Linked DNA regions of Homo sapiens. The protein of the gene in region 1 interacts with the protein of each later gene in a biochemical or structural test. Each region holds a gene or a part of one and is shown on either strand. Other genes may lie near its edges.

Region 1 (7,016 bases):
TGGTGTGAGGCTCGTGTTGCCACGCTGGCCACTGCTGGACCACTGGCACCGTGTTCGCTATGGCATGGCTGAGGCTGTGTGGCGCCCCTCCACAGCCGCACCACCAGAGAACACCCAGTGCCAGCACTTAGTCACTTACTGCCTTGCCTGCCTGGGGAAAGATCCTGGAGAAGGTGGCCTCATTGGTTTGCAGCTCTGCTGGGGGTCCAGCCACAGCCCAGGAGTGACTCTGACCGAGGTGTTGGCCCCACAGACCAGCCGTTGTCTCTGTTGGAGGCTGAGGGCCACAGCACAGTGCCCACTACTTAGCCAGCAGGCCGTGGCCACCTTAAGAGGCCAGGGGAAGCTGGCGGGGGAGGGCGTGTGGGCTGCCAGCCTCCACCCTGGACATGATGGTGTGGGGCATGGTCCCCTGTGTCCCCCTTCCTGTGAGTAGGGGTGGCCCTGCTTCTTGGCCCATGTGTCTGTCCACACAGCAGACTTGGTCCGGTTTCCTCAGTGCACTGGGGTCCTGCAGAGCTTGGGGAGGCAGCACAGGGGGCGGGGGGCGCAGCAGTGACTCATCTGCCCTCCCTCGAGTAGGGGCCGGCCAGGACGTGGGCCGAAGCTGCATCCTGGTCTCCATTGCGGGCAAGAATGTCATGCTGGACTGTGGAATGCACATGGGCTTCAATGACGACGTGAGTCCCTTGGGCAGGAGGCCCAGAGGCTGGGAGAGCCGGCCATCCACAGCTGGACCCTGGGCCTCAGAGCCGGGACAGTGGGGTGGTGGGCAGCAGTGGTTGTGCTTGGATGGCTGCACCCTGTGGGGAGCAGGGATGGGTGGGCCTGGCCGAGGTGAGCCCCTGCATGGTGGGGTCCCCCTGTGCTGGCGCTGAGCCCCAGCCCCGGGGTCCTGTAGGCTGGACTCCGTGAGACCCTGGGCTCAGCTTCCAGCTCACATCTGTCAGTGAGGTTGGGGGTAACCTCGGCCCCTCCGGATGCTGTGAGCAGCCAGGGGTCCTGGTGCCACCTGCGGGATGGGAGTGCCCAGCCTGAGTCTGCACATAGAACCCCCCTTCCTGGGGGCCCCTCCCTGGGGCATGGGTGGCCCCAGATGCTGCCTGGAGACCACTGTGCAACCTGAAACCCCCACATCCTTCCTAGCGACGCTTCCCTGACTTCTCCTACATCACCCAGAACGGCCGCCTAACAGACTTCCTGGACTGTGTGATCATTAGGTGGGTTCCTGTTGGGGGCCTTGAGGGTCCCATGTCTGTGCCTGTGGGGCTTGGGCCACCTTGCTTGGTCTCGGCAGCGTTTGGCAAGGGGCCTGTGCCATCCTTGATCCTCAGGGGGCTTCTAGGCCCCAGGATCTGCTCCCTGCCTGCCTTACTGGTCACACACATGGCCTGGTCTCTGTCTGTTCTTCCGGCCCTGCCCTCTGAACCCTACTTTCTGAACCCGGCCCTCCAGGCTTCACCCTCTCTGATGCCTTCACTGTCTCAGGATCTTTAAACCCCACTGTCTTGTTGGCGATTCCAGAGTCCCGAGTCTGCCCTGACCCCAGCCTTTAGGGTTCAGCAGCTCATGACCCGCTGGTCTGGGTGGCCTCGTCTGGACGGCCACAGCACTCCTGCTGGCCCCCTGCCCTTCCCTGCCCTGTCCTCCCCAGCAGCCAGGCCCGTGAAGCCTGGAGAAGCCCCTTCTCCTCTCCGGAGGCAGTGTCCTCAGCTGCCCCTGAGCCCCTCGTGGTTGTGGTTTCTTCTCAGACACGGTGGGGTCCCCAGTGCCTTCCTGGGGCTTGCCAGGCGCTGCCCTTGCCCTCAGGTCTGTGCCACCTTCACCTGCAGCTCCACTCAGCCTGTCCTGACTGCCTGAAAAGCCAGCGGCTCCCCTATGCGCGGTTCCCTCAGCAGCTTTGCATTGTCTCGCGAGCATGTCGCCGTCACCGACGTGTTCAATTTCCCGTTTGCTTATTGCCTTGCTAGACTTTGAGACTGAAAGTTCCAGGGAGACAGTTTTGTGTTTGCTCATTACTGACTCTTCGGTACTCGGGATGAGGCCTGGCGCACAGCAGGCGAATGAAGGGGCCAGTGACCCACAAGCCCAGAGCGGGGGTGAAGGCTGGGGCAGGGTGGGCCCAGGCTGACCTGTGCTGCGTCCCCCTAGCCACTTCCACCTGGACCACTGCGGGGCACTCCCCTACTTCAGCGAGATGGTGGGCTACGACGGGCCCATCTACATGACTCACCCCACCCAGGCCATCTGCCCCATCTTGCTGGAGGACTACCGCAAGATCGCCGTAGACAAGAAGGGCGAGGCCAACTTCTTCACCTCCCAGATGATCAAAGACTGCATGAAGAAGGTGGTGGCTGTCCACCTCCACCAGACGGTCCAGGTCAGGTTCCCAGGGCCACAGCTGGCACAGTCACTGCCCACCCCCACACCAACCATGCCCTCCGCCCGTTCTACACAGTTTCTGGAAGGCTGGGGCCTCAGGGTGAGCCCACCCCACCTCACTCTTGCGTCCAGCACCGTGGGGACACCAGGAGGCGTCAGCGCGAGGATGCGGGTCCCAGACCAGACTGGGCGCCGACCCGGGAGAGCACGTGCAGGGTGGGGGTATGCACCGGCTTATGAACCCACCAGGCTCTGTCCGAGCGGCATTGAAATGGCCAGAGTGGGACAGGCTGGTGCCCTCAGAGCGCTTGGAGCGGCCAGAGACTCGCTGGAGCTCCCGGGGTGTTGCCGGGCAGGGAGGCAGGGGCTGGAGGGGAGATGGGCCAGCTCTGGAGGGTGCCTGGTTCTGGGTGTGGGTCAGGGAAGAAGTGAAGGTTAAATCAGCGAGTGACAGGTGAAATTCCATTTCTGACAAAGATTATGGGTTTGTCTGTGTCTCACTCGAATCTCTGGGTATTGCTTTTATATTTCTTGAAACTATATTAGGTACCTATGTATTTTGGAACATTTAATTTTCTGATTGAACTTGTCAAAATGAAGTATGTTTATCTTTTTTGTTGTGAAACTTTAATTTTTTTTTTTTTTTGACAGTGTCTCACTTTGTTACCCAGGCTGGAGTGTGATCTTGGCTCACTGCAGCCTCGGCCTCCCGGGTTGAGGTGATCTCCCACCTCGGCCTCCCAAGTAGCTGGGACTACAAGCATGTGCCCATACGCCCAGCTAATTTATTTTGGTATTTTTTGTAGAGATGGGTATGTGTTGCTAAGGCTCTCGAACTCCTGGGCTGGGCTCCAGGGATCCTCCCACCTCAGCCTCTCAAAGTGCTCGGATTACAGGCATGAGTCACCACACCTGGCAACTCCCTCAGTACATTTTAAACCCAGAAAGACATCATTTCTAATGCCTGGTAACACCAACATTTGCTTAGTTTTATTTATATATTTATCCTTTTTGTTGGGCTTCCTGCATTTTTTCTACTTTTTACTTGGGATAATTTGCCTTCTGCCTGAAGAATATGAGTGTGGGTCTGCTGGTGCTGAATTCTGTCAATTTTTATTTGCCTTGGCCAGGCGCGGTGGCTCACGCCTGTAATCCCAGCACTTTGGGAGGCCGAGACAGGCGGATCACGAGGTCAGGAGATCGAGACCATCCTGGCTAACACGGTGAAACCCTGTCTCTACTAAACAAAATACAAAAAAATTAGCTGGGCGTGGTGCGGGCGCCTGCAGTCCCAGCTACTCGGGAGGCTGAAAGGCAGGAGAATGGCGTGAACCTGGGAGGCGGAGCTTGCAGTGAGCCAAGATCCCACCACTGCACTCCAGCCTGGGAGACAGAGCGAGACGCGAGACTCCGGCTCAAAAAAAAAAAATTTATTTGCCTGCAAATGGATTTACTTTATCCTCGTTCTTAAAGGACTTTTTTTCCCTTAGGTGTGTAAGATTTTAGGTTGACAGTATTTTGTCTCTGCACTTTGCAAACAACGTTCTGTCTCTGGGCATGGGCAGCCGTAGGGTCTGAGCAGGAGCCTTGGTTTTTGGTGCTTGTGCTCTGATGGGCTGACATGTATCCTCAGCCTGTTTAGAGTTTGAGGCCTCTTGGATCTGTGGCTTGAGGCCTTCATCATGTTTCTTCCAGTGTTGTTTCTGCCCCGTTCCTGCTCCTCCAGGGACCCCGAGAGCCTGACGTTCAACCTCTTGAAACTCCGTCATCTGTTTGTCTTTCCTGTTTCCTGATGGATATTCCCTCTGGTGTCTTTCAGTTCATGGATTCTCTTCTGGTTATGTGTCATATGGTGTTAAATTCATCTGTTGAATTCTTTTTTTTTTTCTTTTTTTTTTGAGATGGAGTTTCGCTCTCATTGCCCAGGCTGTAGTGCAGTGGTGCGATCTCAGCTCACCTTGAACCTCCGCCTTCTGGGTTCAAGCGATTCTCCTGCCTCAGCCTCCCGAGTAGCTGGGATTACAGGCGTGTGCCACCACACCCAGTTAATTTTGTATTTTTTTTTAGTAGAGACGGGGGTTTCACCATGTTGGTCAGGCTGGTCTTGAACTCCTGATCTCAGGTGATCCACCCGCCTTGGTCTCCCAGAGTGCTGGGATTACAAGAGTGAGCCACTGCGCCTGGCCAAAATTTTGTTTTTAAATTAGCCTGGCGTGGTGGGTGCGTGCCTATAGTCCCAGCTATTTGGGAGGCGGAGGTGGAGGCGGGAGGACGCTTGAGCCCAGGAGTTTGAGTGAGCCATGATTGCGCCACTGCAGCCTGGGTGACAGCCCCACCCTGTCTCTCAATTTTATTTATTTATTTTTTTTTGAGACACAGTCTCGCTCTGTCGCCCAGGCTGGAGTGCAGTGGCGCGATCTCGGCTTACTGCAACCTCCGCCTCCCGGGTTCAAGCAGTTCTCCTGCCTCAGCCTCCCGAGTAGCTGGGATTACAGGCGCACACCACCACATCCGGCTAATTTTGTATTTTTAGTAGAGACGGGCTTTTTCCGTGTTGGTCAGGCTGGTCTTGAATTCCCAACCTCAGGTGATCCACCCGCCTCAGCCTCCCAAAGTGCTGGGATTACAGGCATGAGCCACCGCACCCGGCAAGTTTTAAATGAATAAATTAAATTTAAAAGAAGTCTAGTTTTTTGCCAATTTTTGTTTTTGACACTCTCGCTCTTGTTGCCCAGGCTGGAGTGCAATGGCACAATCTCAGCTCACTGCAATCTCCGCCTCCCGGGTTCAAGTAATTCTGCCTTAGCCTACTGAGTAGCTGGGATTACAAGCACCCACCACCATGCCCAGCTAACTTTTGTATTTTTAGTAGAGACAGGGTTTCACCGTGTCGGCCAGGATGGTCTTGAACTCCTGACTTCAGATGATCTGCCCACCTTGGTCTCCCCAAGTGCTGGGATTAAAGGTGTGAGCCACTGTGCCCAGCCCAGTATTTTTTTGTTTGTTTTTACCGAGATGGAGTCCCGCCCCATTGCCCAGGCTAGAGTGCAGTGGCGTGATCTCAGTACACTGCAACCTCCACTTCCCAGGTTCAAGCGATTCTCCTGCCTCAGCCTCCTGAGCAGTTGGGATTACAGGCACGCACTTCCACACCTGGCTTACTTTTGTATTTTTAGTAGAGACGGGGTTTCACCATGTTGGCCAGGCTGGTCTCCAATTCCTGACCCCAAGGGATCCACCTTAGGCCTGGCCGCCAACATTCTGAACCTTGTCTTTTCTCTGTCATGTATTCAAAGTCCACGCTGGAAACTCCAATTTCAGGTCCCTTCAGTTTTTTGTCCGTTGTCTTTCGTTCTTTGTCCACGTTGCCCGTCCCTTGTGAACTGGATGCTGTGTGTGAGCAACAGGGACTGAAAAGCTCAGTGCAGTGCCCTCGCTCCCCGCCCCGCCTCCCTCCCTGCCCCCGCCCCCCTCACTCCCTGCCCCTGCCTCCCTCGCTGCCCGCCTCCCTCCCTCCCTCCCCGCCCCCACCTCCCTCGCTCCCGCCCCCGCCCCCTCGCTCCCCTTCCCCCACGCTCCCCACCCCCGCCTCCCGCGCTTCCCGTCCCCCGCCTCCCTCACTCCCCGCCCCTCTGCTGTGAGGACACAGCCTGAGCGCAGCCCTGTCCTCCACAGGTAGATGATGAGCTGGAGATCAAGGCCTACTATGCAGGCCACGTGCTGGGGGCAGCCATGTTCCAGATTAAAGTGGGCTCAGAGTCTGTGGTCTACACGGTCAGTGGAAGGGCTTGAGGCTTGGGAGGGGCTGCTGGGGTGGGAGGCACCCTCCTCATGGCATCCTTGATCGTTCACCAGGGTGATTATAACATGACCCCAGACCGACACTTAGGGTAAGTAGGCTGAGGTGTCTTTTTGTCCCGTGGGCCCCCCTGGAGCTCAGGACCCTTGCAGGTGTCAGGGTGCCAGCCCTTGAGTGGCCAGCCTGGCAGTGTCTCCCATGTCCTGTGCGGCCTGGAGAGCCCCCTTCGTTCTGGGCCCAAATGCGCGAAGGCACAGGGTCCAGGCAGGGGCCTCTGTCCCTCCTTCTCTCTCTTCCCAAGTCTCTGGGTGGGTGCCTCTGTCTCGCTCTTCCGAAGTGTCTGGGTGGGTGCCTCTGTCTCTCCTCTCTCTTCCCAAGTGTGCTGCCCACAGCATTTTACCAGCTGGCTCTTTCCAGCCAGAGTGACCTAGGAAGGCGGCTGGGCGTGGTACTGGGGTCCAGCTTGTCACACCCAGCCCTGCAACCGTGGGGACAGTGCATCGTGGCTCACACCCCCACCCCCGTGTTCCAGAGCTGCCTGGATTGACAAGTGCCGCCCCAACCTGCTCATCACAGAGTCCACGTACGCCACGACCATCCGTGACTCCAAGCGCTGCCGGGAGCGAGACTTCCTGAAGAAAGTCCACGAGACCGTGGAGCGTGGTGGGAAGGTAGCTGCAGCAGGGGTGGGGACATGGGCCCTCGGCCATGCTGGGCTGGTCTTTCTGGCAGGCTTGGCTGCCCTTGGCATGGGTCAGGGTCTCAGGGTGGGGGGTACTGCATTTTCAGGCAGGGAGGGAAGAAGATTTGCTCAACATTGAGGAGGAAAACTCAG
Region 2 (7,995 bases), on another chromosome or scaffold:
GCCCAGAGACTGGGAAAAAGTGCTGTTTCCTGAGCAGCAGAAAGAGACCACCCAACCCTGACCCCAAGTCGTGGGCACAAGACTCACGCTTGCATAGTTGTGGTTGCTGTCTGGAAGCTGAAAAGATTTTCCTTGGGGAACCAGGTACGAATAGGGATGTCGTCTAAGAGAGACAAAAAGGAGCGGTGGCTGGGTGAAGTAGGGGTTCCTGAAGCCTCTCCCTCCCTGTTGGGAAGCAGATGCTTCTGGGTCCAGGGGTCAGCAGAAGCTGGCAGCCAGGGCGGGTGGGGGGAGGGTGGCATCCCCACACGGGCACAGAGGGCAGTGCTCGAATGTCTGCTGCTCACTCACCAAGACCACGCTCTTGGTAACTTGACGCTTTGATTTTTTTGGCTTAACTTTCCCTTTGGCCACCCAAAGTTTGAGAAACATTCCTTTGAAAGCACAGTCTGTCTCCAGGAGGCCCAGGAAAACAATGCGTCTGTTTCCCTTGGGCAGAAGAGGCTCTGAGGCCTTCTCTGCAGCCCCCATGCTCTAGCTGGAGGCCCTCACCGAGGCTAGAGACCACCTTGCTGAGGGCTGTCCCCTTCCGAGGGCCCCCACAGCCTTTCCCTGATGCCCAAGTGTGGGGACAGTGGAGTGACTTTCTGCCTGGTGGACAAGCTACCACACAACTCAACAACCCTGGGGAAAGATGCCCACTGCCTGGCTGGGCCCCAACAGCTCCCCAGGACTCTCGGAGGGCAGCCCAGTCTCCTGATTAAGCGGTGCTTCCTCCCTACATATCCCTTAAGATCCTCCCAGGCCCCCTCCTCCAGGAAGCACTCCTTGATTGACCTGGTGCTAGCAGGGCGAAAGCGGACTGTGAGGCCTGGCAGATTTTGCTGAGGAGCTGAGGGAGCTCACAGCTCATAGGGTGTGGAGGCCGCAGCAGAAGCCTGCCGGTTTTAATCTTGAGTCCGCTGGCATGCTGTGACCTGAGCACCTGTTCTCTGTTCCAAGCCTCACAGTGGCTGCTGCTGTCAGACCCTGGCAGCGGCATGCACCCCCAAACCTGTCTATGCCCTGACACAAACCCCTCACCAGACACACGGTCAACGCTGTACATCCTCTCCAGCTTCTTGCGGCGACCGGAGGTCTCAGGCAGAGGTGGCTGGTCCAGCCCAAAGGCCCGAGGGGTGGGGCCAGGAGCCAGCTGGGCACATCCGGGGCACTCCTTGGAGCCCTGGCGGCTGCCCGCCCAGCTCTGGCAGGGCCTGCTGACGTCCTCCCGGCTGCCACCAGGGCTGGCGCGCAGGGGCTGGCTGTGATGGTGAGGGTGCCGCTGCCGCCGCCCCTTCACCACCGCCAGCTCAATGGCCTCCGCCTCAGGGCTGGGCAGCAGGGCAGGCTCCCCAGAGATGGTGTACACTCGAGGCTGAGGGCCCTCGCCTGCGGGCTTCCTAATGCTGGGCTCCTCTGAGAGGCTGCCCTCGTAGCAGCCGTTGGAGACGAGGGACAGGCGGCGCTTGTTCTGGGGGGCCGGCTGCATCTCGGGGGACCCGTCGTGGCCAGAGTAGGCATCAGCCAGCAGGTGATCTAGGAGAGACACTGAGTGAGCCTGCCTGCCGCGTGTGGGCCCCCCGCTGCCGGTTTCATAGCAGGCCGAAGGCAGAGAACACCCAGTGGGCACCTGGCCTCTGTGGGGGACTAGGGCTGCCCAAACCCTAGTCACTGGCGTGTTTCTGAGCCCCTCACTCCTATCTGGGCCTGAAGCTCTAGCATGTGCGTGGGGGCTGGGTGACGCTGTGCTACCTGTGTGCGGTCCTGCCGGGTAGGAACACGCAGGCCATCCCCCAGCCTGCGATCGCACCGTTTGCCTGGTGCCAACTTCCCCCTCCCCCCACCAGCTGGCCCCCAGAGGCAGTGGTGCCAGCCCTGGGGGAGCCAGGAGGCCTGTTGCCATGCCAACGGCCCAGGCGGGGTGGGTGCCATGGTGACGAGCGGCTGGGAACTGCTCCTGGGGCTCGGGCAGGGAGGGCAGGGGATGTAAGGAAGCCAGGCCGGCAGGGCGCCGGGCCCACGCGCAACCAATGCCCCTCACGCTCCACCCCCGGAGGCAGGGATCAGCATCCCTTGGGCTGGGGGGTCTGGGCGGCCCTGGCACGGCCTCGCGTGCCCCTACCTGCGCCGTTGCGGTTCTCAGGGTGACTCTGGGACAGGTACTCTCCAAACGCTCGGGCTGCTCTGAGGGTGGACAGAGGGCACGGTCAGAGGCCACGGCACGACCCTCCCAAACACCGGGCCGCGCAAGAGCCGGGGGTCCGGTCCCCAGCCAGGCCCTCGGCGTCTGGAAGGAGGGTCGGGGTCGTCCCCCTCCGGGAGCCCACACACCCTTGGTCCTGGTGCGCCCTGGCCAGGCCTGCAGGCCCGGCCCCTGCCCGTCGGACCGTGGAGAGGGGTCGCGAGGCCGGTCGGCTGCTGTTCCCCGGGGGAACCGAGGCCACTCCCGACCTGGGGGGTGCGCTCGCCCACCACGCGCTCGCGAGGGGAGGGGAGGGAAGAGCAGGGCAGGGGACCAGGAAGAGGGAGGCGCGGGGCGCGGGGAGGGCGCCTCAGTGGCAGAGGCCGGGGCCCGGGAGCCCGGGGAGCACCGCGGGGCAGGGGCGGACTCGGGCGGGGTCGGAGGTCCAGGGCGGGGTGCGGGAAGGCGGCCCCGCCGCACTCACCGCACTTTGGCCGCCACCGAGGACATGGCCTCGCTCCTCAGCGCCCTCCTCCTGGAGGCGGCGGCGCCCATGGTCGAGGCGGCGGCGCATCCCCCGGGCCTCAGAGCGCGCCCCGCGCCCGCCGCCTCCGCCGGGGTAGCCGCGCCGCACCGGGGGTCGCGCTCGGGCTCGGGCTCGGGGTCTCGCTCGGGCTCCGGCTCGGGCTTGGGCTCGGGGTCGGGCTCGGGGTCGGGCCCGGTCCCCGCATGGCCGCACCCGGCGCTCCGCGCGTGCCGCCGCTCCCGGGAGAGCGCTGCCCGAACCGAGGGCCGGCCCCGCCCATCGTGACGTCAGGGCCCGGGCGGGCCCAGAGGGGCGGTCGGCCCCACCTACCGTGACGTCAGGGCCCCGGAGAGCTCGGAGAGGACATGTGGCCCCGCCCACCGTGACGTCCGGGCCCGGGTTGAGTTGGGGGCGGGGCCGGGCGGCCTGGCTCCGCGCCCTCTCGTCCAGGCCTCCAGAGCGGGGAAACTGAGGCCAGCGGCCCCCTGGTCGCAAAGTCCTGGGCCCTCGGCCCTCACGATCTGCTGCTCAGACCTGCAGGATCACAGGGAGGCCGGTTCTCCCTCCCCTTACACAAAAGGGCTCCCTGTGCAGTTTGGGAACTGGAAACCGAAGGGGAAGCCAGTTTAGGGGGCACCCAGTTTGCACGAGGCCAGAGAGAGACAGAGGGGCCCGTCCTGGTCCTGGGGGGCCACAGCTCTATGCAGACTCTGGACGCCCTACCTGCCTGGCCTGCATTTGCCGCCCTAGGGCTCTCAGGCCCCAGCAGTGGGGTCCTTTGAGGAGGACTGGGGACTGCCCAGCCTCAGGGACCACCCGCATCAGGGAGAACCAGTAGTGTTTCTTTGCCACAGGGACCTCGGCCCGGGAGACACGTCCAACAGTGAGATCCACCTTTATTGAAACATCACACGGCAGCATCAGGGCTCCCACACCTCACAGGGCAGCAGGCAGTTCACAGGACAGCAGGCAGTTCACAGGGCTTTGGGGGCCTCACAGGGCAGCAGGTGGTTCACAGGGCTTCGGGGGGCCTCACAGGGCTTCGGGGGGCCTCACAGGGCTGCAGGGGGTTCACAGAGCTTCAGGGGCCTCACAGAGCTTCAGGGGCCTCACAGGACTGCAGGGGGGCTCACAGGGCCCTGTATGCAGGGCTGCTGGTACAAAGAAGAGGCCCAGAGAACCCTAACACAGCCTGGGGCCCCGGGGAAGTCAGGGCTTCCAGCAGGGCAGGTACAGAGGCCCCTAGGACTTGGCAGGAGCCTCAGCCTTGGGGACAGTCCCACGGAAGACGCTGCATCCGGGCTCTTTAGCAGAGGCCTCTACCCGTCCTGGTCAGAGGAGCCCTCAGACAGTTTTGGGAAAGCCAGACTGGGGTGTCGATGCCGCAGTGAGGACTCGTCCTCCTGCAAGCAGACCGCATGTTCCAGGTGAGGACCAGGCAGGGCAGGGGCTCTGCAGCGCTGGTAACCCGGTGGGACCACAGGGAGGGAGTGGCCGGCACAGGGCCAGGCACCAAGGCTCAGCTGTGGGCACCAGGTGGGACCATGCCCAGCTCCTCACCAAGTCTGAGCCCTGCTGGGCTGAGGTGCTCTGGAAGTCTGCGTATGCATCCCTGGGGACGTCCAGCAGCTCCTCCTCGTACTCCGTCTGGTAGTCAGATTCGTCTGGCACCGAGGGTAGGGCTGCGTCAGTCCCCTCCCAAGGAAGGGACCGTACCCAGCATAGCCACACTCAGAGGCAGAACCGGCCACAGATGCCCACCCCCGCCTCCAAGGTGGCCCGGGGCCCTACACGCAGCCACCTGGTCCCAGGGCAGCCCTGCACACCACCCCTGGTTCTGTCTGGCTCCAGCTTTGCCCCAGCACATCACTTCGTGGGTCTTCCACAAGGACAAGGAGCGGGCAGACACTCCTCCCCTTGTCAGCCAAGCACCCTGAGGGCTCCAGCACCCCAGACCTGGCAACTGTGGATAGGGGCTGCCTTGCCCAGGGCCCTCTCGGCCTGCGGCAGCCATGAAGACGTCTCCCAGGAGAATGTCCAGTTCTGCTGTGAGGAGGCCACTGGCTGAAGGCCCAAGCGCAGGGCCCTGGATGGAGCATGGAGGGTAGTGGACCCGCCCTTCTTGTCCTGCGGCCCCTCCAACAAGCAGCCTTCATTCCCATTTCCCACTGGGTGGGGTGGGAGGCAAAACGTGGTTCTACTTCAGGCCTGAGGTGTGGCTGGGAGTTGAGGTGAATGAAGGGCAGGGGCTGGGTGACCCGGGGTGGTCACAGTCCCACTGCTGTGGGAACACGTGGTGCCCGGGACGGAGGAGTGCCACCAAGCACCCCAGCTGCTGGAGCCTGGGCGTGGACGTGGGCGGGAGGGGAGGCCGTGGGCCTCTGGGGTGGGGGGGTTCAAGCCCAACACAGCATCAGGAGGTCACGCACGTCTCCACGGCTTCGTCTTGCGCCTCCACTCACCATCCACCATGGCGGGCTTGGCGGGCTCAATGCGAGACACAATTTCGGCAAGGTCCGTGAAGGAGGCGTTGGGACAGGTGAGGACCTAGGGGTGGGGTGAGGACAGCACGTTGCCTGTGGACACCCGCCTGCCAGTCCCCAGCCTGCTTCCTGTGGGGAGGCCCCACCCACCCTGCGCCCTCTCTGCAGCCTCCGCCTGCCCCCCAAGTAAGGGCAGGGACCGGGGAGATGCGCAGTCCTGAGCAATCCTTGTCCTGGCCCTGGAGTCTTTGGCCAGGGGGGCAGGGCCTGTGGCCTGAGGAGCTGGGCGTGGCCTGATGAACTGGGCGTGGGCGTGGCCCGAAGAACTGGGCGCGGTCCGGGGAGCTGGGCGTGGTCCGGACGCCCGTACTCACCGCACTCGCGGGCTTCTTGCTCGGCCCCTGCTGGTCGCGGAGCATCTTCTCCAGCACGCCGCTGCGGCCCCAGATGTCAAACACCGTGCGCCCGTGCTGGTAGCCCACTTCCTGTGCACACCCCCAGGGCCCCGTCAGGAGGTGTGGGGAGCCCCCCACTTCCTGTGTTCTCAAAAGGGGGAAGCGAGGAGGGGCAGCCACCAGAGTGCCTCCGCCCGCCTCCGCCGCCGCGGGTGGCCGGCACTCACGCAGATCTCGTTGAACTTGCCGAAGTCCAGGGTGCTGTAGCTGTCGATGGGGGGGCGCAGGTACTCGCAGTAGTCACTGCTCTTCACCACCTCCAGCTGCCGCACGCAACACACGTAGGCCAGGCGCGTCTGAATCTCTGCCATGTTCAACACCTGCTGCCGTCACAGCCGCCTGAGTCTCCTGCCCCGGCCCCTACCCCGTCCCAGCCTGGCCCGTGGCGCAGGACAGGTTCTGGGGACCCATCCTCTGGGGTAGGTAGGTTCTGGGGGGAGAGGGTAGCAGCACCCGGCCGGGGGTCCTCCCTGCGGGCTGCCACAGCCTTCAGGCCCGTCCGGCCTCGTGCCTTCCTTCGCCCGAGTTGGGCTCAGGCAGGGGTGGTGAGGGGTGGCCCCAGACCTGCTGGCCTCAGAGCCCAGGAGCGACCCCCACTCCCCTGCCGCAGGACAGGTGTGGAGCTGCAGGGAGGAGCAGCAGGGACAGCCCAGCCTGCCCGGTAGCACCCCACCTTGACTTTCGTGGCCAAGGGGTTCCAGCGTTTCCACAGCAGCCACCACCCAGACAGCGCATCCCCATAGTTGGTGAGGTCCGTCTCATCTCGGCTGCCCACGTCAATGGCGATCACCACTTTTGCCCCCATGGACCGGGCCACATCCGCTAGGGAGAAGCCAGCCCTGGTTACCCCCTGGACAGGCATGCAGAGCCAGGGGACGGGGGCAGAGCCTGCCTCTCCGAGCCCTGACGTGGGGGTTGTGGGGTCTCCTCTCCGCCATTACACCTTCTAGAGGCAGAAGACCCACATGCCCAGCTCGATGGGCAGCTGTGGGCACACGGCTGTGTCCTGGGCCTTTCTGACCGTATATCCCACAGGTGACAGGAGTGGCCTGGCCTGGCCCCCAGCAAGCTCGACACCTGCAGGCTGTTAGTTTCTGACTGTGGGCACAGATGGGGCTTAATTGCTCCCAGTTCCTCGACTTGGCCTTTGTTCTGCATGCTGCTGAGCTGACAAACAGGGCCATATGCTGGAGCACATGCTGCCGGTGCCTGCGTGTGCATGTACACGCGTGTGCATGTTCTCGGAGCTCTGATGCCAGCCTGACATTTTCCCTTGGCATACTCTAAGGAAAACGTGTTCCAGCCCAGGCTTCTTGGAGCGGAGGCAGCTGTGGCAGGGGCCGTGGGGCGGCGTGACCCAGGAGCCTGTGCTCCTGCCGGGCGTGGTCCCCCCACCGCAGTACCTGGGAGGTTGTTGATGTAGCCCCCGTCCATCAGCAGGTGTCCGTCCTTCGGGTCACAGAGAGGGGGCATGTAACCGGACAGGGACATGCTGGCACGCACGTACCACCACAGGGAGCCTGGGGAGGGGGCCCGGAGCTGCTGGTTACCCGGAGGAGGCTCCTCCTGGGTCCAGGGTTCAGGGCCTTGCCACTGCAGTCCTGGAGCTGGTAGGTCCCAACTCTCTGAGGCCGCCTCCACAGAGGGAAGCTCATGGCCCAAGGGCTGAACAAAATTGAGTTCTTTCTCTGGGGTCGCACTGCATTACATGTGCCCAGGACTTCGAACTGCTGTGACCCCCTCACCCCAGGACTGAGGGAGCCCCTCACCCCATGACCGAGTGAACCCCTCATCCCCCTGAACCAGGTGAGCCCCTCACCCCAGGACTCAGGGAGCCCCTCACTTTGTCCTCTCACATGGTATCCATCAGTCTAGCCCAACATTGCTGATTCTGTGAGGGTCTCCTCCAGCCTTCTGAGGTCTCTGGCCCAGGCCACGCCCCCTCCTGTCTGTGCCCCTAGTAGGGGCATCCTGTGTCCTCCATGGACAAAGCTGCCCATACGTCTGCATCCTTCAGGAGACCCCGCGGCCTTCCCAACCCCTGGGGCTGCTGAGCTCTCCCCCTGCCCACACCTCGCACCCAAGCGGCCGCCCTGCGCAGCAGGAGTGCTCACCGTCGGTGTGGACCCGCATGGCCGAGGCTGTGATGTCGGTGGTGATGGCGAAATAAGGAATCCACAGGTCCTGCGGGCGGACGGGGCTCAGATGGGCCCTCTCCCATCACGCTCCTGTCCTGTGTCTGGGGAGGCTGACCCAGGGCCAAGAGGTGGGGGGCCAGGAGGGGACAGGCACTGGGGGCTGCATGGG

Evidence for each region. The genes of interacting proteins can lie anywhere in the genome.
Region 2: the proteins of INTS11 (region 1) and NSMF form a complex in vitro, tested with the Homo sapiens proteins (one study listed by BioGRID).

What each region holds. Positions count from the first base shown.
Region 1 is NC_000001.11:1,314,660-1,321,675, reverse strand, and holds part of INTS11 (integrator complex subunit 11), read left to right. Parts: intron 1-582; coding exon 583-680; intron 681-1,146; coding exon 1,147-1,220; intron 1,221-2,151; coding exon 2,152-2,380; intron 2,381-6,057; coding exon 6,058-6,156; intron 6,157-6,237; coding exon 6,238-6,272; intron 6,273-6,713; coding exon 6,714-6,852; intron 6,853-7,016.
Region 2 is NC_000009.12:137,456,324-137,464,318, forward strand, and holds the start of NSMF (NMDA receptor synaptonuclear signaling and neuronal migration factor), read right to left. Parts: upstream 3,012-7,995; 5' UTR 2,780-3,011; coding exon 2,709-2,779; intron 2,227-2,708; coding exon 2,165-2,226; intron 1,579-2,164; coding exon 1,084-1,578; intron 164-1,083; coding exon 88-163; intron 1-87. Other genes in the region: PNPLA7 (patatin-like phospholipase domain-containing protein 7), read right to left, coding at 4,070-4,153, 4,311-4,414, 5,213-5,297, 5,608-5,718, 5,856-6,008, 6,362-6,510, 7,092-7,208, 7,803-7,872. UniProt on the Homo sapiens protein: Couples NMDA-sensitive glutamate receptor signaling to the nucleus and triggers long-lasting changes in the cytoarchitecture of dendrites and spine synapse processes. Part of the cAMP response element-binding protein (CREB) shut-off signaling pathway.